Homo sapiens: one gene and its partners. The main gene of each other region encodes a partner of the protein of the gene in region 4 in a complex. Each region holds a gene or a part of one and is shown on either strand. Other genes may lie near its edges. The genes, in order: PPP2R5D, PPP2R2A, PPME1 and PPP2CA. A codon is read from its position in the direction of its gene.

Region 1 (7,666 bases), on a different chromosome or scaffold from region 4:
TCAGCCCTGTGTTTTGGGCCCAACTCTTACTGGCTGTGTAATCACAGGCAAGTTAACTAGCCTCTCTGAGCCTCAGTTTCCTCATCTATTAGATGATGACAATCATAATACCCTCTTCCCTCAGCACAGTGTTAAGGCACATGAAAACCGTAGTGCTGGTCAATGTTATTACTATTATTATGAACAAGAAAAAAATCGGAGGGGGCAGGGGCACCCTACTCAGGAAAATAAAAGAGGTAAGTCCCAGAGGAGAACATGAAGGAAGAGGAGAGATGCGAATCCCTCCAAGAGATTATCTTAGCACCTATCCACTAAGCACGTACTTACCGTGTGAAAAGGAGTTGTCAAACCAAAATGAAACTTAGTTATTATCTCAAAGGGGAAGAAAAGTCTTGTCCACAATTAATTCCCATCCAAGGCCAAACACAAAAGGACCATAAGTGGCCTACTAAGTGTTCTGCAAATCCAGAAAAGAAAGGAGAGTTCACTCCTGACTGAGGGCTCAGAAAGGCTTTAGAGAGGAAGCTGTGAAAGATGGCCAGGAGAGAGGGGACAGGTCATAGATGAGCAATAAAGATCCTCCACCCACAGCCATCCAGACAAACCTCAGTCACACTGGCAACCCCCCTGCCCCTTAGAGCCTGCCAACCATTGAAGAAGGCCAAATGCAACTGAAAATCAAGAGCAGAAAAACCTTATAGGGAGGTGAGAGTTATGCCTGGCTCCATGCACCCCGTTACTTCCAACACCCTTTCCCAACCAAACGTTTACACCCATGGTCCTAGCAAATCTCACTGGCAATTTGTCTTCTTCACAATCTAGTAGGCTATTGCTTTCTGTGGATGGGACAGTATCTAGTCCAACAGACTAAAAATTACAAATGGGTGGGGACCTCACCAGCTTTCCCCGAATTCCATTTCCCTTAGCCCCTGTTGTGGCTGATTTCTGTGTGCATTGTCTACGACTGAGCTACCCAAACCACCTCCGCATGCCCACTCCCCAAGGACAGGGCCTGGGTGGGGCACAAAACCCTGTCCAGCTCACTACTCCCAGGAGGCTCACTATCTAGTACACCATCACCAACCCTGTACTTAGAACCTCAGGCCCTGAAAGGTTAAGGGGACAACTCAGAATCAGAGCTGCCTGGCAAATACAGAACAGCCCCAGGAGAAAAAGTTTGATTGAAAAGGTCAGAGATGGCAGCCCAGTAACCCAGCCAATCAGAGGGCAAATGAAAGCAATATACCTCTGGGGTCATCGAGCAGGTGGCCAGAACACCAGGCCAGAGCCAACCCCCACCAAAAAGGGCCAGCCCCAGGAGAGGAGAAGCTGGGGGAGGCTGGAACTGGTATCCTAGCATCCTATGTGTGAGTCTGTACCTCAAAGGAACCACACCTCTGAGTCAGACCTCAGCAACAGCAGGAAACAGAGGGTAGAAAAAGGCACGGATGAGGAGCAGGGGAAGGCAGCACCGAGGTAGATGAGGAAGGTGAAAGAAGGCAACATTAAGAACTGGCCTGTGGGCCAGGCACGGTGGCTCACACCTGTAATCCCAGCACTTTGGGAGGCCGAGGGGGTCAGATCACCTGAGGTCAGGAGTTCAAGACCAGCCTGATCAACATGGAGAAACCCCGTCTCTACTAAAAATACAAAATTAGCCGGATGTGGTGGCGCATGCCTGTAATTCCAGCTACTTGGGAGGCTGAGGCAGGAGAATCGCTTGAAGCTAGAAGGCAGAGGTTGTGGTGAGCCGAGATCGCGCCATTGCACTCCAGCCTGGGCAACAAGAGCAAAATTCCATCTCAAAAAAAAAAAAAAAAAAAGAAATGGCCTGTGTCAGGACATCATGATAAAGACATGGGTGTTCAGGGGTGGCTGGCCTGCAGGCTAAGAAGGAACAATAATCTGACAGTGAGGACAAATTCCCAATTTGAAGATGGTGTAGCTTAGGAAAGGCAGAAATCCAGCACTGGTGCGAAAAGAAAAAAAAAAAGGAAAAATGCAAAGGTTATCCTAGGATTAAGAATAAGGGTGAGGAGCCTACTCAGATTAGGAAAGGTGACTGGTCTAGGATGCACTTGGGTGACAGTTAGGAGGGCTTTGATACAAAAGAGGCCTTTAAGTCAGGAGACCTGATATTGCAGCTGGGCCTCCAGCAGGCTGTGTGACCTTGGACAAGTCCCTTGCCCTGTCGGGGCCTCAGTCTCCTCATCTGTACCATTAGGGATTGCACTGCATGCGCTCAGAGGTCCCTTCCAGCACCAACGTTGTGAGGTTCCATCAACAGAAGGGCTCAGTCCTGCTTACAAGTTTGTGTGTGAAGGAAGAACTAGAGGGAGGGGCCTAGGCCAGATTTGGGTGGAGGAGAGAGAAAGCAGCGCTGTTCTAGGTCAGGGGCTTGGCATGGAAAGAGAAGGGGCCGTAGGGGACTGCGGGGCGGCTGTCCCAGGCGGGTAGGAAGAGGAGACAAGGGGCTGCTCAGGGCGGGGCGAGGGGGCAATTCTGGAGGAAGGTGCAGTTTCAGATGAGGGGCTGCCCAAACCGAAGGGGGATCGGGGCCAGGGGTGATGGGGGGGACAGAAAAAGCAGGACAGTGACCTGGGAATGGGGCAGATCTGGAAGAAGGAGGTTACCCTGGGCCGGGGGTAAGAGAAGGGAAGAAGGGAGGGAGGTGTATGTGGGGGGAGTCTCTCCGGGGCAAGGTGGGGGAGCTGTCCTAGCTGCGGCACAAGCTGGGGGTGCTGCCAGCCGCGGGGGCGGAGGGCTGGCCCCAGGAGTCCTGCGGGGGCTGGACGGGAGGGTCAGTCTGGGGCTGTCCCGGGCCTGGCTCCGGCCCCTCCCAGAGCTCCGCGCAGGCTCCAAGGCGGCGGTGGGGGAAAAAGGGCCACGCTCACCTTCTCCTTTTTCAGTTTATAGGGCATCTCGGCCCGTCCGGACCCGGCCCGTCTCCTGCGGCCCCGCTCCGGCTCCGGCTTTGCTCGGCCGCACTCGGCCCGCTCGGCGTCTCTTCGCCACCGCCTGCGCGCTGCGCCCGGGTCGAGCGGTGCCTGCGCCTCCAATTGGCCCGAACTCCTACAAAACTGCCTGACAACCAGGCGCCGCCTCCTCGGATTGGTCATTGGAGCCAAGCTGCTTCCTTTTTTTCTTATTGGAAAGAAATAGTACAAACCGCCAGGGTTCGGCTTCCAGAATTGGCTGAAGTGGGTGGTCCCGCCCTAAAGTGGGTCGAGCTTAGAGAAGGAGGCGGGGATAAGGGGAAACCCAAGCTTGGCTAGGAGGGCTGCACTCCAGCGTCTGCTGTGCGTCGGCCTCGGCCATTCTTCGCGGCGCTTGGAGCCCTGCTCTTTCCTTCTAAAGGCTCTCACACTTTGCCCGCTCTGCTACCCTGTCCAGTCGGAATTGGAGGAAGGAAGCCCTAATACGGAGGGCACCTTTCTTCACTGGGGTAAAGTAGCCCTAATTGCAGATGCAAAATTGATGGAGGGAGCTCCCAAGGACCTTCCAAGACACCCGCCTCCCTAGACAGGGGTTGCAGAGGAGCAAAGGGGAAGCCTGGCAGGGCTAGGACCTGGGCGAAATGAGTGGAGAATCCCTGGCTTGGTGCAACTTTAGGAAGAGGGTCCCCGTTGCTACTGCAAGTGTACTGGGATTGGGGAACCAGCTAGATTTGAGCAGTTGGGAACGCAGTGGAAAAGCAACTTCATTGTTGACTGTCTCAGGAAATCCATCCCTTACTTGCCACCCTGCTCAAGTCCGTGTTCTAATGGGTAAGACTCAGTTTATGCCCACAAAGAGTTCGCAGTCTGGTGAATCACAGATGTGTATAAACAAAGGATTAAGAGAGAATGTAAACCAGGCAGGCACGGTGTCTCACGCCTGTAATCCCAACACTTTGGGAGGCTGAGGCAGGAGGATCACCTGAGGTCAGAGGTTCGAGACCAGCCTGGCCAACATGGCGAAACCCCGTCTCTATTAAAAATACAAAAATTAGCTGGGTGTGGTGGTGCACGCCTGTAATCCCAGCTACTCGGGAGGCTGAGGCAGGAGAATCACTTGAACCCGGGAGACGGAGGTTGCAGTGAGCCGAGATCACACCACTGCACTCCAGCCTGGGCGACAGAGCAAGACTCTGTCTCAAAACAGCAACAATGACGACAAAAAGAATAAACCTGTGGCCAGGCTCGGTGGCTCACGCCTGTAGTCCCAACACTTTGGGAGACCAAAGTGGGCAGATCACGAGGTCAGGAGTTTGAGACCAGCCTGACCATAGTGGTGAAACCCCATTTCTACTAAAAATACAAAAATTAGACAGGGTGCGGTGGCTCACGCCTGTAATCCCAGCACTTTGGGAGGCCGAGGTGGGCGGATCACGAGTCAAGAGATCGAGGCCATCCCGGCCAACATGGTGAAACCATGCCTCTATGAAAAATACAAAAATTAGCGGGGCGTGGTGGCGCGCGCCTGTAGTCCCAGCTACTCGGGAGACTGAAGCAGGAGAATCACTTGAACCCGGTAGGAGGCTGAGGCAGGAGAATTACTTGACCCCGGTAGGTGGAGGTTGCAGTGAGCCGAGATCATGCCACTGCGCTCCAGCCTGGGCGACAGAGCAAGACTCCGTCTACAAAAAAAAAAGAAGAAACCTGTGATGCAAAGGCATGAGAATGATACAATGGAGGCCGGGCGCGGTGGCTCACGCCCGTAATCCCAGCACTTTAGGAGGCCGAGGCGGGCGGATCACGAGGTCAGGAGATCGAGACCATCCTGGATAACACGATGAAACCCCGTCTCTACTAAAATAATACAAAAAAATAGCCGGGCGTGGTGGCAGGCGCCTGTAGTCCCAGCTACCCGGGAGGCTGAGGCAGGAGAATGGCGTGAACCCGGGAGGCAGAGGTTGCAGTGAGCCTAGATCATGCCACTGCACTCCAGCCTGGGCGACAGAGCAAGACTCCGTCTCAAAAAAAAAAAAAAATACTACACATTGGGTACAGTATACACTGCTTGGGTGATGGCTGCATCAAAATCTCATAAATCACCACTAAAGAACTTATTCATGTACAAAAAATAAATTTTTAAAATTCTATATAAAATAAAATATTTAGTCTTAAAAAAAAAAAAGGTCAGGCGCAGTGGCTCACGCCTGTAATCCCAGCACTTTGGGAGACTGAGGAGGGCGGATCACCTGAGGTCAGGAGTTCAGGACCAGCCTGGCCAACATGGCAAAACCCCGTCTCTACAAAAATACAAAAATTAGCCAGGCATGACGGTGGGTGCCTGTAATCCCAGCTACTCAGGAGGCTGAGGCAGGATAATCCATTGAACCCGGGAGGTGGAGTTTGCAGTGAGCCGAGATCGCACCATTGCATTCCAGCCTGGGCGACAGGGCAAGACTCCATCTGAAAAAAAAAAAAAAAAACACAAAACCTGTGTCCCTTACCCAGGTACCCAGGAGAGCAATGTTACAAGACAGTGGCCGTGGGGATGGAGAAGAGAGGATGGAGCATGAAAATGTGTAGAATCAACAGGATATGGTGATTCATTGTATTGTGGGGGGGACGGTAACGGAAAGGGAAGAGTTGAGGATGATTTCTGGAAGTGATCAGAGTTGTAGGAGGACAACTGGTGTCATAATGGCAAAGGAAATAAAAGACAATTGGTCAGTAGTGTCAGAGAAAGAACAGCATCATCTTGATTCTGCAATTAGAAGATTATGGGTGATTTTTTCAGAGAGTGGAAGACCGTTTTTAGTGAGTGGAAGAGTGAGCATCAAGAGGTGAGGAAGTGAAGATGGCAAATGTAGGGTCCTGGCGATCTTACAGAAGTAGTATTTGGCTTTCGGTGACTAATGACGATTTCAGGGTAACACAAAGTGGACTACATGCCCGCTGTTACCTGCTGGGAGAAAAGCTTGGGAGAAAAGGACATTTATTTGTGGGTGGGTATTTGTGTCTGTATGAGTGCTGATCCAGGCAAGATAACTGATGTTTTTACCCATCTCCAAGGCCTCAAGGAGCACTATAGTCCTGAGGCCTAGAGCTTGCCTGCTACTGAGGAAAGCAGGCATATCCTCTTTAGGCCCATGTACCATCTATCTAGCCCTTGGTTCCTCTGGGACATAGGGGACCAAGAAACATATAGTAGCACTACCAAATGGGAACTTTCATCCATGTGAATCTAGGTACCTAGAACATTCTTTATTTAGTTTTTTTTTCTTTTAATTTTATATATTTTAAGAGACAAGGTCTTGCTCTGTCACCCACTTGGAGTGCAGTGGCACAATCATAGCCTCAAATTCCTGGGTTCAAGTGATCCTTCTGCCTCAGCCTCCCCATAGCTGGGATTATAGACACAAGCCATGGTTCCTGGTTAGTACATTCTTGCATGCTATTTTATTTATTTTTTTCTATTATTTATTTTTTTGAGACGGAATCTCACTCTGTCACCCAGGCTGGAGTGCAGTGGCGCAGTCTCGGCTCACTGCAAGCTCTGTCTCCCGGCTTCACGCCATTCTCCTGCCTCAGCCTCCCGAGTAGCTGGGACTACAGGCACACACCACCATACCCAGCTAATTTTTGTATTTTTAGTAGAGACGGGGTTTCACCATGTTGGCCAGGCTGGTCTCAAACTCCTGGCCTCAAGCAGTCCACCCACTTGGCCTCCCAAAGTGCTGGGATTACAGCCATGAGCCACTGCGCCCAGCCCCTTATAATATGCAAATCTAATAGTTTTCATATATTTGTCTTTCAAATTTTCAGGAATGTATAATGTACAAAATAGAAGACTGCCTCAAGAAGAAAGGAGAGATGGAGAAAGCTGAGCAGTAGCTGAAAGAGAATGTAAGGTCTAGAAAATGGAGATTGGCACCATCCAATTCATTTATTGTAAGTGAAAATAATTGTTAATAATTGGAAATGCAGTGGGACATGATGGCTTATGCCTGTAGTCCCAGCACTTTGGGAGGCTGAGGCCTGAGGATCTCTTCAGACCAGGAGTTTGAGACCAGCCTAGGCAACACAGAGAAACTCTGTCTCTACAAAAAATAAAAAATTAGTCCAGGCGCAGTGGCTCATGCCTGTAATCCCAGCACTTTGGGAGGCGTAAGCAGGTGGCTCACTTGAAGCCAGGAGTTCGAGACCAGCCTGACCAACAGGGTGAAACCCCGTCTCTACTGAAAATACAACATTAGCTGGGTGTGGTGGCACACACCTGTAATCTCAGCTACTTGGGAGGCTGGGGCAGGAGATTCTTTGAACCTGGGAAGCGGAGATTGCAGTGAGCTGAGATCGTGCCATTGCACTCTGGCCTGGGCAACAAGACCGAAACTCCGTCTCAAAAAAAAAATTGGCTGGGTATGGTGGCGTGTGCCTGTGGTCCCGGCTACAGTTACTCGGGAGGCTGAGGTGGGAGATCACTTGAGCCTGGGACGGTAGAAGCTGCAATGAATGGGGATCGTGCCACTGTACTCCAACCTGGGTGACAGAGTAGGACCCTGTTGCCATAAAAAAGGAAATGTGGCCTACCACTAGCTGAGTGTCTTGTACAGAACAGTGGAGGTGAAGAGAAGGATGGAATCTAAATAACAGCACACGCAGGAAGTCGACTGTTGGTGTTATGCTGACAGAAGCCTTGAACTCCTTTCCTTCTGCCTGCTCTGCTGCCTGCCCCG
Region 2 (7,030 bases), on a different chromosome or scaffold from region 4:
AGAAGATTAAAGAGAAAGAGAATTAAAATGCTTGAAGGAACATTAAATTAACTCAAGTTATAAGGTGACTATGACGTCCTTTAAGTAAAAATGATCTGGGAAACCCAGTTCATATAATGATCATGGAAAGCCAATGCAAATATTTTTATAAGATTAATTTTGGTTAATCAAACCTGGAAAGTTTGGTACTATTTTCCATCATTCTCCCACAGATATAGTTTTTATATAGACCCATTATATTGGGGGGGGGGGGTGTTACTATGCTCACAGAAAAAACTCACAGAGAAAAATACACAAAATAATATAAAAGATATCACTCAGAATCAACAGATGTTGACATTTTTCTCTAAGTCTCCTTCTTTCCAAATAGTTTTTCAGATATAGTTCAAGTCCTACTCCTCCCATCCTTTTCCCATCTACCCAGACACAACAGTTCATATGATTCTCATAATCTGCTTTATCCTTCCACATTGGACTCTATTATTAAGCACTTATTTTAGCATTAAAAAATGCAGCCCCCAGTTAGCTGTATTTTACTTAGTATTAAGAAACAAAAGACAAAAATCTACAATGCATTCTCTAATGTCTTTAAACAAGATTTAATCCATAGACGTTGTAATCGGATTTGCTTCGAAATAACACTGAGGAGGAGGGGAAGGGGAAGGATCCGAGACACAAATTAGCCATGAACTGAGGAGTGTCAGAAGTGGATGATGAGCATGCAGGGCTTCACTATACTATTCTCTTGAACTCAGCCTACATTTAAAAAGTTCTCTTTATAAGAAAGCTGATGTAGCCCTATAAGAAATAAACTGACATAAAAATATTCCAATATATAAAATGTTAACAACACATTTCCCTAGGAACATTTACTTCTAAAAGTAGAAATTATATAAATGGTTTAATTATGTATCATCTGATGCCAAAGAACAGTGTCTAAAATATTTGAAGCTATTTGAAATAACTTAGTTTACCATATAAATTAAAACTGACCCAAGACTAGAAGCTAGCATATGACAGGAATAAACTGTTCCCTCCACCCATAGTGCTGTGATTTACAGGCTTTAAATAGTTACTTCTCTTTATTTTTCTTCTAATAAGGACAAGAGAGGGGAATGCAGTCTATTGTGAAAACAGAGAAGGCAGAGGGTACGCATCTCAATGGACTGGCTGGGGAAAGCTTTCATGATCAGAAAAACGGGCACCCAGGAGGCGGCCAACGCTGATGGCCATCAGGCATTTGTGAACAGCATTTCTAAGAACTAATACTGTGGACGAGGGGCATCAATTAGATGGAGGAAGTGCTGAATTTCTTCCCCCATTTCATCCTGAAGTCATTTAAGTATATATTCTGCAAATGTTTATGGTCTAGGTGTTAGAATTTGCTTTTTAAATTAATAGTGAGGGGATGAGAAAATAAGAGGTTCCCCTCACCCTAGCACCAACCTCAAAAAAGTTTTAATCACAAATTTTTATAGACTACGGCTACCCAGAAACTAAAGTATCTCCTCAGTCACTCTAATGATTCCCTTTAGACTCAAGACCCCAACAAAGTCCAAACAATTCACAGGAAAAAGTTTTTCATAAGAACAAAGAGAAAGCACCCAACTCATCATAAAGGATTTCAAATTCTGGTAGAGTCATTACTAACTTTTTTTTTTTTTTTTTGAGACGAGTCTCGCTCTGTTGCCCAGGCTGGAGTGCAATGGCGCGATCTCGGCTCACTGCAAGCTCTGCCTCCCAGGTTCACCCCATTCTCCTGCCTCAGCACCCCCGCCCCAGTAGCTGGAACTACAGGCACCCGCCACCACACCCGGATAATTTTTTTGTATTTTTAGTAGAGACACGGTTTCACCATGTTAGCCAGGATGGTCTCAATCTCCTGACCTCGTGATCCACCCGCCTCAGCCTCCTAAAGTGCTGGGATTACAGGCGTGAGCCACCACGCCCGGCCTGTCATTACTAACTTTTAATCCTCACTCAACTTTTCCTGGGCCAGGCATAGTGGCTCACACGTGTAATCCCAGCACTTTGGGAGACTGAGCGGGGCAGACTGCTTGAGCCCAGGAATTCAAGACCAGCCTGAGCAACATAGGGAGACCCAGTCTCTACAAAAATGTTTTTAAAAAATTAGCCGGGTGTGGTGGCACTCACCTGTGGTCCCAGCTACTCAGGAGACTGAGGTAGGGAGGTCGAGGCTGCAGTGAGCTGTGATTACACCAATGCACTTCAGCCTGGGCGACAGACATTGTCTCAAAAAACAACAAAAAATGTTCCCTTGGCAAGTAAACAGTAGGAGAGGAATCTCCTTCCAGCCATGTGGATTGCTGGGAAGAAGGCAATATGCTAATGGTGATCAAGTAAGAAAGTGCTCTCCTATAGCGTATCCTGGAATGGAGACCATCCTTTGAGTATTTTGTATCTGCAGTTTGAGATACTCTGTGTAGTTTACAAACACTTAAAAAGGAGGAATAAATTAACATTTATTGAGCACTTGCACTCATGATGTATGTGAAGTTATTTAATATTCATAATAATACTATAATAAAAAATTGCTATCTCTAGTTTGCTGCTGAGGAAAATTCAATTCAGTGTTAGTAACCTGCCCAAGATTACGAGACTGAGAAATGACAGAAATATTACCTGACCTAAATCCAATGGTATAGCAGCCCATTCTTTTCACTACAAATTGGAGGTGTAGTAAACAAAAAATTGCTATCAGAGAATCTTTCAGAGAATCTAAAAACTGCAAGTGACAGTAAAAAAGTAGAGTTTACATTCTGTATAGAAAAACAAAAGTCCTTTTTACAAGTATCTCTGTTAAATGATTCCTCTCCTAGGCTACAGGATATGTGCAACAGGTACACACAGTGGGCACATGGAAAGAAAATATGTATACTTACCATTGGTAGACAATAAAAACTGAGCAGCATTTTTCTGGGGTAACCACCTAATTTTGTTGATCTTTTCTTCTATTTCTAAACTTTTCAAGTAGTCAAACTCTGGTTCATGGCTCTGGAAGGTGCTGTAAACATTATATTCTCCTCTGCTATGAGACTGGATTTTGTTCTAAAATGAAAACAAAAATATATGGACCATTGTTGAAAAATATTTCAAAATAATCAAATATGTAATCAATTCCAAAGGACCCTGCACATTCTCAATACCCCATTAGTTGTGTCTTTATACAATTACATTCTGTTTTTTATATTTCTAAAGGCCTTCAAGGATTAAATGAGAAAACTTAACGGGGGAAAAGGCTAAATAAAGCTGAATAAATAAGCTCAATTCATTAGGGAAATAATGACGTTAAATATGGATCAATTTGATTGCTAATTTACTCTTATGTATTTGATGGTATAGTCTATGAAAAAAACTGATGAAAAAAAACTGAGCACCCATAATAAGGAAGTTCATCTAAAAATAATGATAAAGTCTTGCCCAGAAAGAGCTAGGTGAGGCACACCTTCTTCCTATGCCCACTTTAGGGTCAACTCCCCGATCTGTTATTTAATATGATGTATTGTCCTTTTCCTTTCTGCTGCCCGCCTTTTGGTTATTTCGCTGCTGAAAGCTTAAAAAAAGAGCTCTTATAAAAGAAGGGATACCATTTGACCCCTACCTCCCACCCCAAGACCACTGTTCCAGACAGCTTTGCTACCAATCAAGTCCATATTCAGCACTACCCAGCAATGGCCCCATGCACCCCCATCAACAACTGCTTACTCGCCTTAAATTTGCTTTCTCATCTTATGAACCTGGCACACACTGATGACTAATTTCATTTAGTATCACTTTGAAAAAATGTAATTTAAGCTATCTCATAAAGGGACTACTTTTGAACTACTCTGGTTAGCATTAATATCTCAGCAAAAGTGAGAATTATAATCATGTTCAGAATTTCATCTTTTGACCTATTATCACACGATTAAAAACATTTTCATAAAAAAATTTGAAAGTCTAGTTCAAAGAACCACCTATGGAAAAAGTTTAAGTAAAAAATAGAATGAGATATTATTGACAGTCAACTATTTTAAGTAAAAGTGAGTTACCCAGTGAAATGTTTAGAACTTCTTGATAATAAAAACAGCCTATTACTATTCTCCATATCAAAAGGAAACTTCACTGAATCATCTTGAAAGTCTATGTTTTGGGTTGTTTTTTCCAGCAGCCTGATGATCTGGGTTGTTCATTCATGGATGGTTGTATTTGAACCCTTGGACAGCAGTTATCAGTTATTAGAGGGCAAGTCTGCCAATGTTAAGAATACATGTCCCACAAAACGATCCACATATCGGGGATACACAAGGGGTAAAAATCAGACTCAGAGCCTTGGTCTCATCACCATACCCATACACAAAATTAGACAGCCTATTCCATTAACATATATAAATACTCCAGTATCACTTTAAAGCTCCACAAATCTTTTACCTAAAATGACTCACCCAGTCTCACAAAATTTATCATTATAGTCTACAAGGAAACCACAATACCATTAAGCAGGCAACTCGATTTTTAATATAAATCCTGCATTTTAGACTGGTTTTTCATTTAACACTTAAAGAGACTATAATATATAGTACTATGTACACTAGGGCGTAGAGGGATAGACAGAATCCCCACATTCAAGTAACTTGTGTACGTCAAACTTTAGTCAAAGTAGAAACTGGTTATGGTCTACACAATTAAGGTAAGCAATATGAAGGGCCAAGGGCGAGCCACACATTGTATTTGATGAGTTAAGAAAAGCACAAAACAACAGAAATATTTTCTGAAACAAAACATGAACATCTTCCTGTAGACTCGTGGACAACAACACAGGTCTACTAAACATGGTATCTTACAGAATCCAAAAACAAAATCATAGAGGTATATGGCAGTTTCGTGGACTGCAAGAAGCTCCATCTCTTTGCAACAGGAAATAAATTAATGTATCACAAAAGGAGAAAATTCTGTCTAAAAAGCTCAAGATGCCAGGCTGAGCACATGCATTAGCCTCCCCTCTCTCCTGAAACTTTATTAAAGTGATCATAACAGAACTTTTAAAAACAAGTCCACAGGACAAAGAGTAATGGCAGAAATGACAGCAGCAGTAACAAAACTGAAGAGGCTATAAAACAGATGGGTACAAGTGGTAACTGACAGTAGACCACAGGGAGCTGCAGCAGACTTTTCCTAACACTTTGGGAGGGGATGTTTACATTATAATGATCATGATAGCATTGTTCCCTGCACAAACAAAGTACAGTGAGCAAGCCTGAATAAGAAGACACATAACCGCATACTCAACACTGAGCCACTCAAATGAGAATGCATCAAAATCAAACACAATGTTTTTGTTTTAAAAACCTCTCCTACAGTCATACAGAATTGTGACACATCCTTCAACAATTCATACTGGCTTTACCTGCACAGCATTTTCACCTCCCTCTCTTTTCTTGCTTGCCTTTATGATCACTATGAGAATCATCTTCCTAACCATACAATCTATTTGCATGAAAGTTTCTACAGTAAGTTTAGATGTGCTTTATTCCCCAGCACCTATAACAGTACTTGGCACATATAACAGGCATTCAATAAAGACTTTCAAAGCAGGATTTAGAATGAGCTATGTCACATACTTTACATACATTACAAACACAGGACACAAAACCAAAATCACACATTTTCAACACAGATGCTAACAGAATTCACTAAAGGACATCATAACCAAGTTTTAAAGCAAAGTCATAAAGACTGTGTACTGGCATGAGGATACACCAATGTGCCAATGAAACAGAACAGATGGCCCAGAAACAGGCCTAAATGATGACAAAGGTTGCCTTGCTGGGCAATGGGGAAAGGATGGTCTTTTCACTAAATGGTGTTAGGTTGACTATTCATAGGAAATAAAATGAAGCTCGACCCCTTCCCAAAACCACTCGTAAAGTGATTACAGATGAATAAGAGATATAAATGTGAAGGTACAATAATTAAGTTTTAGGATAACAGGACCCAAGAGAACTTTTCTGCAATGATGGAAATAGTCTGTATCTGTGTTGTCCAGTATGGTTGCCACTAGTCATGTTGAGCACTAGGCACACACTGAACACCTAAAATGTGGCTACTGCAACTAAGGAAGTTAATTCTACAATTTATTTTTAATAATTTAAATTTATTTATTTACTTATTTATAAGGTAGTAAGGCTGACTTTAAAGAGGGCCATGGAGACAGGGACCACTGCAACAGGGTCTTGCATTAGGGGAGAGAGAACAGACTCAACTCCCCATTAATCTGAATAGCCACATGGATCTAGTAGCTACAGTACCAGTCATACAGTTCTAAAAGATAACGGAAATGTCTTCCCTGGATTTTGGGGTTGAAAAGTATTTCTTATACAGGACAGAAAAACCAGTAACCCTAAGAAAAATACTGATCAACTGTATTATATTAATAATCTCTATTTATAAAAATATACTATTCAAAAAAATGAAAAGGCAAGTCACAGAATGAAAAATACTTCTAACAAATGTGTGGGTTTTCTTGTTTTGTTTTGTTTTGTTTTTTAAAAAAGATGAGGTCTTGCTATATTGCCCAGCCTGGTCTCAATTTCCTGGGCTCAAGTGATCCAACCAATTCAGCCTCCCAAAGTGCTAGGATTACAGGCGTGAGCCACTGCCCCTGGATCCTCCAACAAATGTAACTGAAAAAGAGTTCATCTACAAAAAGTGTAAAGAAAGTCTACAAATCAGTAAGAAAAATGACACACAACACAGAAAATTATAAGAGATTTCGATAGTCACTTCCAAAAGATAACATCCAAATAGCCAATAAACATATAAAAAGCAGCTCTGGCTAGGAGTCGCAGCTCATGCCTGTAATCCAACACTTTGGGAGGCCAAGACAGAGGATTGCTTGAGGTCAGGAGTTCAAGATCAGCAACACAGTGAGACCATCCCTACCAAAAAAAGAGAGAGAGAAAAAAAAAATTAGTCAAGTGTTGCAGTGCACGCCTGTAGTCTCAGCTACTGGGGAGGCTGAAGTGGGAAG
Region 3 (3,945 bases), on a different chromosome or scaffold from region 4:
CAAAAGCCAGAGATGGAAGAGGGATGATTAGGGTAGAAACTGCTCCCTAAACCACAGGCACAGTTAGGAATTAATATGGGCTCCTCCTGTGAGAAAACACCATTCTGTAACTCTGAGGGCACACATAAGCCCTTCACGTCATTCCTCTTGAGCTCTATGGAGCTATCCCTGGCAAGGATAGTGGGGAGGAGTCTTCTAGCTCTGCTAGGGAGGGCCTAGGTCCTTTTAATTTCAAGCCACTCAGACCTGTGGGTGGGATGAGGGCACCGTAGAGCCTAACCATCTAACAGTAGCTCACAGCCCAAGGCTAAGCCCCATCACTAACCTTTATATGGCCTGGAATATCTCTCCCATTTCCAGGTAGCTGAAGCTGTTGCCACTTTCCTGATCCGGCACAGGTTTGCAGAACCCATCGGTGGATTCCAGTGGTAAGGCGGGTACAAGGGTTTAAGAACCCAGCAGTGCTGGCCGAATCTGACAAGCAGACACTTGTAGGACTGTAAATATCTCTGCCTTACCCCTGCCTGGTTTGGTCACCATGCCTTTCTTCCTCCTCCTCAGTGAAGAGCCTGGCATGTCTGTTTCTACAAAGCCATGGTTGGTTGTTTCTTTGTGCTGTGCTCCCACGGGTTGATGCTGAGGCTGTGATTAAATTGTGCCTAGTCTCACTCCCCACTGTGATGTGCATTTCTTCTTGAGGTGCCCCTTTGAGGAGGCTGGGATAGGAATCAGTCCTTTTCCAGGCTCCTAGAGAAGTTTTCTTTGGCTTCTCCTGCCCTGCTGCCAAGGAAAGCTGGGCAGGCCATGGAGCAGGGCTTTTTTTTTTTTTTTTTTTTCTTGGCACAGTCTTGGTTCACTGCAACCTCTGCCACCTGGGCTCAAGTGATCCAGTGCCTCAGTCTCCCGAGTAGCTGGGATCACAGGCGTACGCCACCGTACCCGGCTAATTTTGTTTTTTTTTTTGTTTTTTTTTTTTTTTAGTAAAGATGGTGGTTTCTCCATGTTGGCCAGGCTGGTCTTGAACTCCTGGCCTCAAGTGATCCACCCGCATCGGCCTCCTAAAGTGTTGGGATTATAGGGATTATAGGCACAAGCCACCGCGCCTGGCCTAGAGCAGGGTTTTCTACAGTGTTGCACAGTGTCTTCCCATGGCCAGCTACTAAGCAAGCTGGGAATGGAATGGGTGCCTCTGCCAGGCTTGCTTCCCCTCCCTTTCCGAAGCTGGCAGAATATTAGCCACTCTGCAGGGGTGATCCTGGAAGCTCTAGAGCAGGGTTTTCAACCTCAGCTTTATTGACATTTTGAGGTGGATAATTCTTCATTGTGGGGACTGTCCTGTGCATTGTAGGATGCTTAGCAGTATCCCTGGCTTTTACCCACCTGATAACAGTAGTACCCCTCCCACACACGGTTTTGACAAACAGAAATGTCTCCAGATTTTACCAAATGCCTCAAGGGAGGCAAAAATTCCCCCTCTATTGGTCTAGAGGAAGAAACAGGGCCAGGTCTCTCATCCTAGGTAGCTCTTCATCTGTTTAGGGAAACACAGTTGGGCTCTTTGTTGAGGAAGAAGAGAGGCATGTTGACCAAACCAGGTGGTATTGACCCACCTCAGCCAGCTCCTAGTCTGTACTGCAGAAGGCCTTTGATCCTCAGAGAGCCCACAACCCTCATGAGGAGTCATTCCTACCATTGAAAAGTCTCTTCTCTGATTTTGGTGAGGGCTTGGGGAAACTTGTTCCCCACTCTCAGAAAGTTTGCAGAAGAAATATTAAGAAAAGGAAATGGCTTCTGCGTTAGAGAACTCTGAATTCCAGGGCCTGGGAGATGAGAGTGACAGGGCAGGGTAAGCACTGGAGATGATGGCAAGACCTTGGGACAGTGAACCACAGAAGCGACACCCCTATGCTGAGCCATCCCTCTAACAACTGACCATTCATGGATCCCAGGAACCAACAATAAAGACTTAATTTCTCTTACTAAACAGTGTTTGGCTGGGGCCCTTCGACCATTTGGAGCCTTGGGCAAATGAGCAGCACACTGAGAGCAGACCCTGGGTCCAGCTCTGGTCAGGGCTGTGAAATGGGTCAGATTTGCCAGGGCCTTGGTGGTCATTAGGGAGGGCTTCCTGGAGGATACAGATAAGCAAGGGAAAGCTATTGATAGTTACATTTGTTTTTCCTTCTCTTTCTGTTCTTCCACAGTGTGTTTCCTGGCTGTTAGTGACCTGCTGTCCACCCCTCCTCAACATCGAGCTCTGTTGTAAATACGTCGCACCAGAGGCCACTGTGATGCCACTGTCTCCTCTCCATCCCGCCCAGCCATGTGACACTGGCTCCCGGTAGACGGGCACCCCGAGATGTACCAACCTTTTCATGTATTCTGCCAAAAGCATTGTTTTCCAGGGCCCTTGACCAACATCGGCTTCCCCAGTCCAGGGCTCCCCTGCTCCTTTCCCTTCCCTGTACTGGGGTAGCTCCTGCCTGCTCTCCCTGCGTTGCCTAGGGTAAAGCCTCCAGATTTGCCATACTGAGCCCCTCTTCCTAGCATCAGGCGATACATCTGAGTTCAAATGTCTTCCCAGGCTCAGGGACCTCCATTCCTTGAGATTGTCTTGGCATGGCCCAGCCCTGCCTCATGGGATGGACAATGCATGGGGTGGTCTTTATTTTTCCCTTTCAAATAAAACACTAGTCAGGTACCGTTTTATCCCAGTCGTACTCTTCCAGGTTTGGAAGACCCAGAGAGGCCAAGATCCCATCCTTAGCCATAGCGAGCGGTGGTGGTGGATAGCATCACAAGAAACGAGCCTGAAAATCAGGTCCAGCCGGTCCAAGCACATGGCCTCCCATCTGGGAGAGCCCACTGTCCCACTCCCACATGTCTGGGCACCTGCCCTGGGCTGAGGCCAGGCTGCTCCAGGGGCCTCCTGCGCCCTCACCTGCCACAGAGCAACCCAGGTTAAATACAGCCCATGCACAAAGCCACAGGCCAAAGCCTATGGAATTGTTTTTAATCATCAAATTTAACCATTTTCATAACTGGTTCCTGGAGGTGTGCAGTGCCCCCTTGCCTCTTCAAACCTACAGCTTCTCTTTGCCATTTGTGGATTTCACATCACTCCACACAGAAACATTACAGCCTGGCATCCCCAGTCTTTGCCTTCTTCCAGCTGCCTCGACACAGCACTGTGGCCTGTCCCTATTGCCCAGGCACGCCATTTCCAAGGGCAGGAAGGGGCAGTGTCCTGAAGCCCATCTTTTCTGTGACTGTCTTAGGTGATGTGTAGCCCCCTCCACCTTTCCACTCAACAACCTCCCACCCCTGTCCTGCTGCATGGTCCGGAGTCTGGGACCTACTTTGTTTTTTGTTATTTATGACCTTGTTTAAAGAAAATAAATATCTCCCAACCTTTATTGGTCTGGTCTTTCTCTGTGGAATTGTCCTTATTTCTGCTGATATGGGGGCAGGGGACAGCTCATTGGACTTAGTTGTCATGGAACTCCAGAAACCCCTTTCCCTATAGCCCTTCAGTGTGTTATGCTCTGCCTGTCCCCTGATCCAGAATGCCCAGTGGGATGGTCAGAGCCACCCTCCTCTGCAGCCAGGATGGGATTCCAGTCCCATCTCTCCTAATTATCGGCTGTGTCGACTTTGGTCCAGAGCAGGACAATCTGTGCACTGTCCACATGATCTCAGTCACCATAGCTTCACTTATGTGAAACTTCATCTACAACCCAAATCATTTCCTGAGCTCTGAACAGGTAGGCCCAGGTTCCTCCTCCTGTCTCTCCCAGATGACCAAAAGCCACTTCATATTGACTGTTTCTAAAGCTGAATCCACCTTCCCCCGGAAACTTGCTCCCCATGAAACTTGCTCTTCCTCCAGCGTTTCCTGGCTCAATAAGTGATAGGTATCACCATCTCTCCAGTTGTCCAAACCAG
Region 4 (7,030 bases):
CAGATGTCCAGCAAAATATTTTCTTAGTCTCAAAAACAGTTAATCACATAACAGTACCAATTCTGGCACTAAAGTATACCAAGAAATAACTTGCTTCAAAATACGAGTTCCAATATTTGGGGTTAATATTCATTTTTGTTGTTAGCTACATGAAAGGGATCATGATGTAACTAAAAGCATTCTCCTAAAGGTATATTACAAGTGGTTTCGGGTGGGCACGGTGGATCATGCCTGTAATCCCAGCACTTCGGGAGGCCAGGGTGGGTGGATCGCTTGAGGTCAGGAGTTTGAGAACAGCCTGGGCAACATGGCGAAACACCCCCTCCCCTACTAAAAATACAAAAATTAGCTGGGCATGGTGGTGCATGCCTGTAATGCCAGCTACTCAGGAGGCTGAAGCTGGAGAATCACTTGAACCCATGAGGCGGAGGTTGCAGTGGGCTGAGATTGTGCCACTGCATTCCAGCCTGGGCAACAGAGTGAGACTGCCTCAAAAAAAAAAAAAAAAAAAAGTGGTTTCCTTCAAAAGAAGGTAGTCAAACACCGAAGAACCCCAAGGTCTATACTGAGGAAAAAGTGTTTGGATTAATCACAGATCAATGATTTATACTTAACTAAAGAAACCTGTTTTTTGTTTTGTAGAAACGGTGGTCTCACTACATTGCCCAAGCTGGTCTCAAACTCCTAGTCTCGAGTGAGCTTCCAGCCTCCGCCTCCCAAAGCACCAGGATTGTAGGTATGAGCCACCATGCCTAGACAGAAATCAAGTTTCTGTATCATCAATTCTGCCCTTGATGAAAAACGTCAATGCAGGCCTAACCTGTCTTCTCTGTAGCATCAAACTCAAAATCAGACACAAATAACCTCTTTACAATCTTAGTACTAATAATAGTACTATTTGACAAAGGAATCTCCATTTTTGAAAGTAATTTTACTACTAAAAGTCTGATTATTGGCCGGGCGAAGTGGCTCACGCCTGTAATCCCAGCACTTTGGGAGGCCAAGGCAGGCAGATCACCTGAGATCGGGAGTTTGAGGACCAGCCTGACCAACACAGAGAAACCTCATCTCTAATAATACAAAAATTAGCTGGGTGTGGTGGCGCATGCCTGTAATCCCAGCTACCCGGGAGGCTGGGGCAGGAGAATTGCTTGAATCTGGAAGGTGGAGGTGGCGGTGAGCCAAGACCGTGCCACTGCACTCCAGCCTGGGCAACAAGAGCGAAACTCCCTTCTCAAAAAAAGAAAAAAAAAAGAAGTCTGATTATTAATTCTAATGTTCATTGTAACTCTAGTTCAAGTAAATTTAACATTTCACATCCTTACCATATAGTTGGACAGTTCTACCAATATAAAGACATAGAAGAAACACTGGAAAAAATGCAATTAATTTTTGAATTTTATTTTTCAGTTTAAGAACTGAAATCATTTGAAAATTCTTAATAAGTAAAATTACTAAATTCACAGGCAAAAAAAATTTTTTCAATATCCCAAGAGAATTTCATTTTGTCTCATACTGTTTTTATGTCAAGATGTACGGTTGGTTTGATATGTCATTTTGATAATTGTGCAAAAAAATCCAAGGTTTGTGATAAGTTAGTGTACAGGGCTAGAGTTTGAGGCGTGGGGTGATACATGATGTAGAACATATTACTAGCCCTGGAAGCAAATGAGTTTTGAGTTAATTTCCTTCAACTATCAAACCATTCTTCATACTAATCATGTGTTGCTTAATCGCAGGGATACATCAAATTATTTAGTTGTTGTGTGAACATCACAGAGTGGTCTTACACAAATCTAGATAGTATAGACTACTACAAACCTAAGCTATTGGATAGCCTATTGCTCCTAGGCTACAAACTTGTACAGCATTTACTGTACTGAATGCTGTAGGCAACTGTTAACATAATGTTAAGTATTTGTATAACTAAACATAAACAATATAAAGTGTTACACTATGACATTACAAGGTCACCAGGTGATAGGAATTTTTCAGCTCCATTATAATTTCATAAGACCACCATCACATGCAGTCCACCACTGACCAAAATGTCATTATGTGGTGCATGACTACTTGTCTTTCATTAACTACACTGAACAGATACCACTAATATTTCACGAAACATTTCAATCTTCTTTGATTAAAATCAGTATGGTTATATTTTAAAAGTTTAACCCTCCAGGTAATATTCTAGTAACTAGTATTTTCTGTTTGGCTCTAAGGCTTAGGACCTAAATAAAAGAAAAATGTTGGGAATGAGGGATAATTCTAAAAGTGTAATAAAAGAAAATATAAAATTTGTGAGTTTTCCCATCTGTTTCTGCAATATCACCTTTGCCTCTGACCAAAAGGAAAGATCCTTAAAGCCCTATGTCTCATATGCACAATAGACTAAACTCAACCTTTACCAACTAACCTACATATGTGAATGAATTAAACACTCCCAATCATTCCTGCATAGAAAAAGAAGTTTTAATCTACTACACAACTGAGAAATGCTGCTATATATCTACTTATTAAAAAATTGTCACAATAATACATCATGAACAAGATTCAACCACTCTGGGTCTCAGTTTCCTCCCTCATCTGTGTAAGATGAATTAGTCTAGATGGTTGTTTCTTTCTTTTTTTTTTTTTTCTTTTAAGATGGAGTCTTGCTGTCGCTTAGGCTGGAGTGCAGGGGCACGATCTCGGCTCACTGCAACCTCTGCCTGCTGGGTTCAAGCAATTCTCCTGCCTCAGCCTCCCGAGCAGCTGGGACTACAGGCGCCCACCACCATGCCTGGCTAAATTTTTTGTATTTTTAGTAGAGACGGGGTTTCACCGTGCTAGCCAGGATGGGCTCCATCTCCTGACCTCGTGATCCACCCACCTCAGCCTCCCAAAGTGCTGGGATTCCAGGCGTGAGCCACTGTGCCCCGCCAGCCTAGATGGTCTTTAAGGTTGATTCCATTACTAGAATTCTACCCCATCCTAAAGCATGTCTTAAGCCTATTTTATTAAGTAAAGCCAGCCAAAAGAAATAGATAGTGGGCATTATTGCTCATTTACAGATTAGTGGCAGAAAAATAAGTTACTTGATCACCACCGGCACAAGCATTCTAAAACATTCCCTATCTAGAATTAACTATAAAGTCAATCTCCTGACTAATCCAAAACTGTGCTATTAATTAGAGCAAAACCAAACTAAGAAATCCTTATACACGAGAATAAGGTAGTGCTTTTTAGACAAAGCTCAATAGTGACAATAATGCATACAATGAAGGTTTATTAAATACTGGTTCCAAAATCAAATGTACACTGTCACACGATAGCATCAATGACACTCCATAACCTCTGTGAACTACATTTTGCAGGCCTTTGGCCAGGTAAACACATGCTACTGCTTGTCTCCCATTCTACTCCTCGTCCCCATCTAGGACAAAGGTTTGCAACCTTCCAGCCTCAACACCAGCAGGGTAAAAATCCCCATCTGTAGTAGCAACTAAATGACTAAACTAAGGCAGAAGTGGCAACACAGGGTGCAAGAGGGACTGGCCAACTGGTCACATTTAGTTTAAAAAATACCCAGATTCAGATATACACGCATCTGTGTCACTGCCTTGTTCATCCATTCTAAACCACAATCCACAACAGACCAATAAACAGGCAATAATACTGCAATGTGAAGAAGTTAAGCAGTTAGCTGGGCACAGTGGCTCACACCTGTAATCCCAGCACTTTGGGAGGCTGAGGCGGGCGGATCACTTGAGGTCAGCAGTTCAAGACCAGCCTGGCCAACATGATGAAACCCTGTCTCTACTAAAAATAAAAAAATTAGCTAGGCATGGTGGCACATGCCTGTAATCCCAGCTACTCAGGAGGCTGAGGCAGGAGAAACACTTGAACGTGGGAGACAAAGGTTGCAGTGAGCCGAGATCATGCAACTGTACTCTGGCCTGGGCAACAGAGCGAGGCTCCGTATCAAAAAAAAAAAAAAAAAAAAAGCAGTTAATCTCAGGTTGTTCTTTACCATTCTTTCAAACCCCACCTCTCAGCCATTTACTGACAATAGACACCTCTCCCTTCTTCAGCCTGGTCTACCACTTCTGCCCCAGAAGCCAAAAGAAAATCTATTTAAAACAAAAACAGGTCTGGTGCCAGTGGCTCATGCCTGTAATCCTAGCACTTTGGGAGGCTGAGATGGGTGGATCACTTGACGTAAGGAGTTCAAGACCAGCCTGGCCAACATGGTGAAACCCTGTCTCTACTAAAAATACAAAAATTAGCTGGGTGTGGTGGCACACACCTATAATCCCAACTATTTGGGAGGCTGAGGCAGGAGAACTGCTTGAACTTGGGAGGCAGAGGGTGCAGTGAGCCGAGATCACACCACTGCACTCCAGCCTGGGCGACTGTGAGACTCTATCTCAAAAAAAAAAAAAAAAAAAAAAGCCCACAAAAACAAAAATCTTCCTCCTTCATGGTTCTCATCCAATTCAGATCTGCCTGTGTATGAGTGGAGGTTGACAGCTTTCTCAGGCAAGGATGATAATGAAGTAAGAGAAATGGGTCAAAGCAGAAAGAATAAATAGTGTCTCCCTGTTACATATAGCTTTGCCTCTCTCCTCAGTACCCTGATAAAAGACCCCACCAAACCCAGTCTCTTAGTTTTCCTAACTTACCCCTTCCAAACTAAGCAAAGGCTATCTCACAGGTAACTCTGACAAACCTGACTTACCATGAGATAGGGAACATATTTGCTGCCATAAAACAGGGCCACACCAGACTGGTAATACAAATGTTATCCCACATACTCCTGAAGGGTCCTTCATTCTTTCTACAGTACATGAGCTTCAACTTAGCCTTACAGCCAATTTTCTGAAAACATACAATTCTGGTCCCAGTGGAGAACGTAGGGAGGGTTGGGGAACCTGTGTTTCTGAATAGTGGGAATGTTCACCTTTTCTGTTTCCTCATGAAGTCAACTCCAAACTAACTGCATTACAGCTTCCTGCCTAGGAGACCATGAAACAAATACACACATGCATGACATTTGACTGTGGAAGCCAAGAGGATGAAAAGAGGCTTTTTTGGGGCCGGGGGGAATGGGGTCTCCCTCTGTCGCCCAGGCTGGAGTGCAGTGGCACAATCTTGGTTCACTGCAACCTCCGCCTCCCAGGTTCAAGCAATTCTCCTGTCTCAGCCTCCCCAGTAGCTGAGACTACAGGTGTGTGCCACCACGCCCGGCTAATTTTTTGTATTTTTAAGTAGAGACGGGGCTTCACCGTGTTAGCCAGGATTGGTCTTGGTCTCCTGACCTCGTGATCCGCCTGCCGTGGCCTTCCAAAGTGCTAGGATTACAGGCGTGTGAGCCACCTTGCCCTGCTGAAAAGAGGCATTTTATAAGTTGCAATAAACAATATAAAAAGTCAGTTATACTTTATTAGAATACTTTAGAGCTCAGTCTCTGGATCATGATTTATACTAAGAATACAAGGGAAATTATCTAGGGTTTTCATCTCACCAATCTCATTTGAGGGGCAAATGTTGTCAGCTACATCCAAAACTGAATAATAATTACTCTTTCCAAGACAAAGAGGAACAACAGTATGTAACATGAATAGGAAGCTTTCAAGCAATGAAAATAAAAATAATGTCTTGGCCAGGCGCGCTGGCTCAAGCCTGTAATCCCAGCACTTTGGGAGGCTGAGGTGGGTGGATCACTGAAGGTCAGGAGTTCGAGACTAGCCTGGCCAACATGGTGAAATCCCATCTCTACTAAAAATACAAAACAGCTGGGCATGGTGGTGGGTACCTGTAATCCCAGCTACTAGGGAGACTGATGCAGGAGAACTGCTTGAACCTGGGAGGTGGAGGTTGCAGTGAGCCGAGATTGCGCCACTGCACTCCAGACTGGGCAAAAGAGTAAGACCTTATCTCAAAAAAAAAAAAAAAAAAAAGTTTTATTTTATGAAAGTGTTGACTTCCCAATTTAGCTTGGCCCCAATTTACCTACATCTTTCACTACTAACACTACCTCTGAAAACAGAAGGGGATCTGTGAAGCAATACCAGAACATTAGGCTTAGAATCCACAAGCCTTGGCAATCTCACTTTTAGCCCCTTTAGTCAAGTCACTTTACCTTTCTGAGTCTTTGAGTTGCATCTGTAACTGAGAACAATATCTTATAAAAGTATGATAAAAATAATGTTCTGTAACATGCTTCCCCCACCTGCTTGTCCTCAATATTCAAATCACTTCTAGAGAAATGAGCCAAACACCCTTTAAAATGAAACGTACACACATACTCACAGCAACATATTACCCAATTCATATAAGAATGTCATCTTGGTCAAATATTTTTCAGCTCATCTAATTAGAAGGAAGCAGTTTGTTTTTTCCATACTCACGTAACAAATGTTAAAACTAACATTTTAATGACTAATGACTGCACTTTATTTATAGTGCTTGCAAAGCAATGGAAAACAGCATACCTAGGTAAAGAACTTCTTTGAAAAAAAAAAATCTGGCTATCAAACAACGTTCTCCACATGTTTGGTAAGCACAAAGCCAAGAAATCATACCCAAGCTAAAACAAAGCTGAAGTCACATAATAAAAGATTGTTTACTGTAGTCAATGCAAAAGCAAGTTGATACTATTTACTCCTTTCAATCTGTAGATTGAAACATACCCGGCCAGTTATACTGATGTAATGCTGATTATAGAACTGAGCCTGAGGCAAAGCTGCACACCAAATTATTAAACTATCAACAAATTATGATTCTCAAGATGACAAAGTATACTATACACTAACAACCTTGGCTTTTGTATAAGTCTTAATCACATCTTAAAATTCTTTTTAGCTAGTCAGTAACATAAAAACCATGTTCACTCTTGTCTTTTATAAATGCATACTTAGATTCTCTCAGTTCTGAACATGTAACACTGTTAATTGTTGATGGGTTAACAAAATAATGGCCTCAGGATTTTTTAGTAACAATGACCTCTTATGGTATACATCTATTTTTACTATTTAAATATTTCCCC

The links.
Region 1: the proteins of PPP2CA (region 4) and PPP2R5D are in contact, whole or in part, in a cryo-EM structure (PDB 8U1X), measured with the Homo sapiens proteins. Residues at the interface, in NP_002706.1 of Homo sapiens: Arg89, Tyr91, Arg121, Gln122, Ile123, Gln125, Val126, Tyr127, Gly128, Tyr130, Asp131, Leu134, Arg135, Ala140, Trp143, His191, Trp200, Arg214, Ala216, Leu243, Met245, Tyr265, Tyr267, Arg268, Cys269, Arg302, Arg303, Asp306, Tyr307, Leu309; in NP_006236.1 of Homo sapiens: Ile80, Lys82, Asn188, Pro189, Ala192, Glu193, Phe194, Asp195, Glu198, Asp199, Glu200, Ile288, Tyr289, Glu290, Glu292, Lys332, Val333, Lys334, Lys367, Phe368, Trp369, Pro370, Lys371, Thr372, His373, Ser374, Pro375, Lys376, Ser413, Pro414.
Region 2: the proteins of PPP2CA (region 4) and PPP2R2A are in contact, whole or in part, in a cryo-EM structure (PDB 9C6B), measured with the Homo sapiens proteins. Residues at the interface, in NP_002706.1 of Homo sapiens: Arg89, Tyr91, Val126, Tyr127, Gly128, Asp131, Arg135, Cys266, Tyr267, Arg268, Arg295, Pro298, His299, Val300, Thr301, Arg302, Arg303, Thr304, Pro305, Tyr307, Phe308; in NP_002708.1 of Homo sapiens: Tyr86 (codon at 2,994), Leu87 (codon at 2,991), Lys88 (codon at 2,988), Ser89 (codon at 2,985), Ala173, Asn174, Ala175, Glu190, Asn201, Leu202, Trp203, His204, Ile207, Thr208, Asp209, Arg210, Ser211, Phe212, Asn213, Ile214, Val215, Asp216, Met256, Ala260, Leu261, Asp263.
Region 3: the proteins of PPP2CA (region 4) and PPME1 are in contact, whole or in part, in a crystal structure (PDB 3C5W), measured with the Homo sapiens proteins. Residues at the interface, in NP_002706.1 of Homo sapiens: His59, Arg89, Gln122, Val126, Tyr127, Asp202, Ile211, Ser212, Pro213, Arg214, Gly215, Ala216, Gly217, His241, Gln242, Leu243, Met245, Phe260, Tyr265, Cys266, Arg268, Cys269, Thr304, Pro305, Asp306, Tyr307, Phe308, Leu309; in NP_057231.1 of Homo sapiens: Gly84, Gly85, Met157, Asp181, Val182, Thr186, Ala187, Ala190, Ser193, Met194, Phe197, Leu198, Leu291, Trp298, Trp301, Phe302, Lys316, Val323, Asp324, Arg325, Leu326, Asp327, Lys328, Thr331, Ile332, Gln334, Met335, Gln336, Gly337, Lys338.

Annotation. Positions count from the first base shown.
Region 1 is NC_000006.12:42,979,933-42,987,598, reverse strand, and holds the start of PPP2R5D (serine/threonine-protein phosphatase 2A 56 kDa regulatory subunit delta isoform), read right to left. Parts: upstream 3,030-7,666; 5' UTR 2,922-3,029; coding exon 2,895-2,921; intron 1-2,894. UniProt on the Homo sapiens protein: The B regulatory subunit might modulate substrate selectivity and catalytic activity, and might also direct the localization of the catalytic enzyme to a particular subcellular compartment.
Region 2 is NC_000008.11:26,350,507-26,357,536, reverse strand, and holds part of PPP2R2A (serine/threonine-protein phosphatase 2A 55 kDa regulatory subunit B alpha isoform), read right to left. Parts: intron 3,070-7,030; coding exon 2,904-3,069; intron 1-2,903. UniProt on the Homo sapiens protein: Substrate-recognition subunit of protein phosphatase 2A (PP2A) that plays a key role in cell cycle by controlling mitosis entry and exit. Involved in chromosome clustering during late mitosis by mediating dephosphorylation of MKI67.
Region 3 is NC_000011.10:74,251,288-74,255,232, forward strand, and holds the end of PPME1 (protein phosphatase methylesterase 1), read left to right. Parts: exon of another isoform or gene 1-343; intron 344-360; coding exon 361-428; intron 429-1,126; exon of another isoform or gene 1,127-1,265; intron 1,266-2,204; coding exon 2,205-2,223; 3' UTR 2,224-3,416; downstream 3,417-3,945. UniProt on the Homo sapiens protein: Demethylates proteins that have been reversibly carboxymethylated. Demethylates PPP2CB (in vitro) and PPP2CA. Binding to PPP2CA displaces the manganese ion and inactivates the enzyme.
Region 4 is NC_000005.10:134,216,046-134,223,075, forward strand, and holds part of PPP2CA (serine/threonine-protein phosphatase 2A catalytic subunit alpha isoform), read right to left. Parts: intron 1-7,030. UniProt on the Homo sapiens protein: Catalytic subunit of protein phosphatase 2A (PP2A), a serine/threonine phosphatase involved in the regulation of a wide variety of enzymes, signal transduction pathways, and cellular events.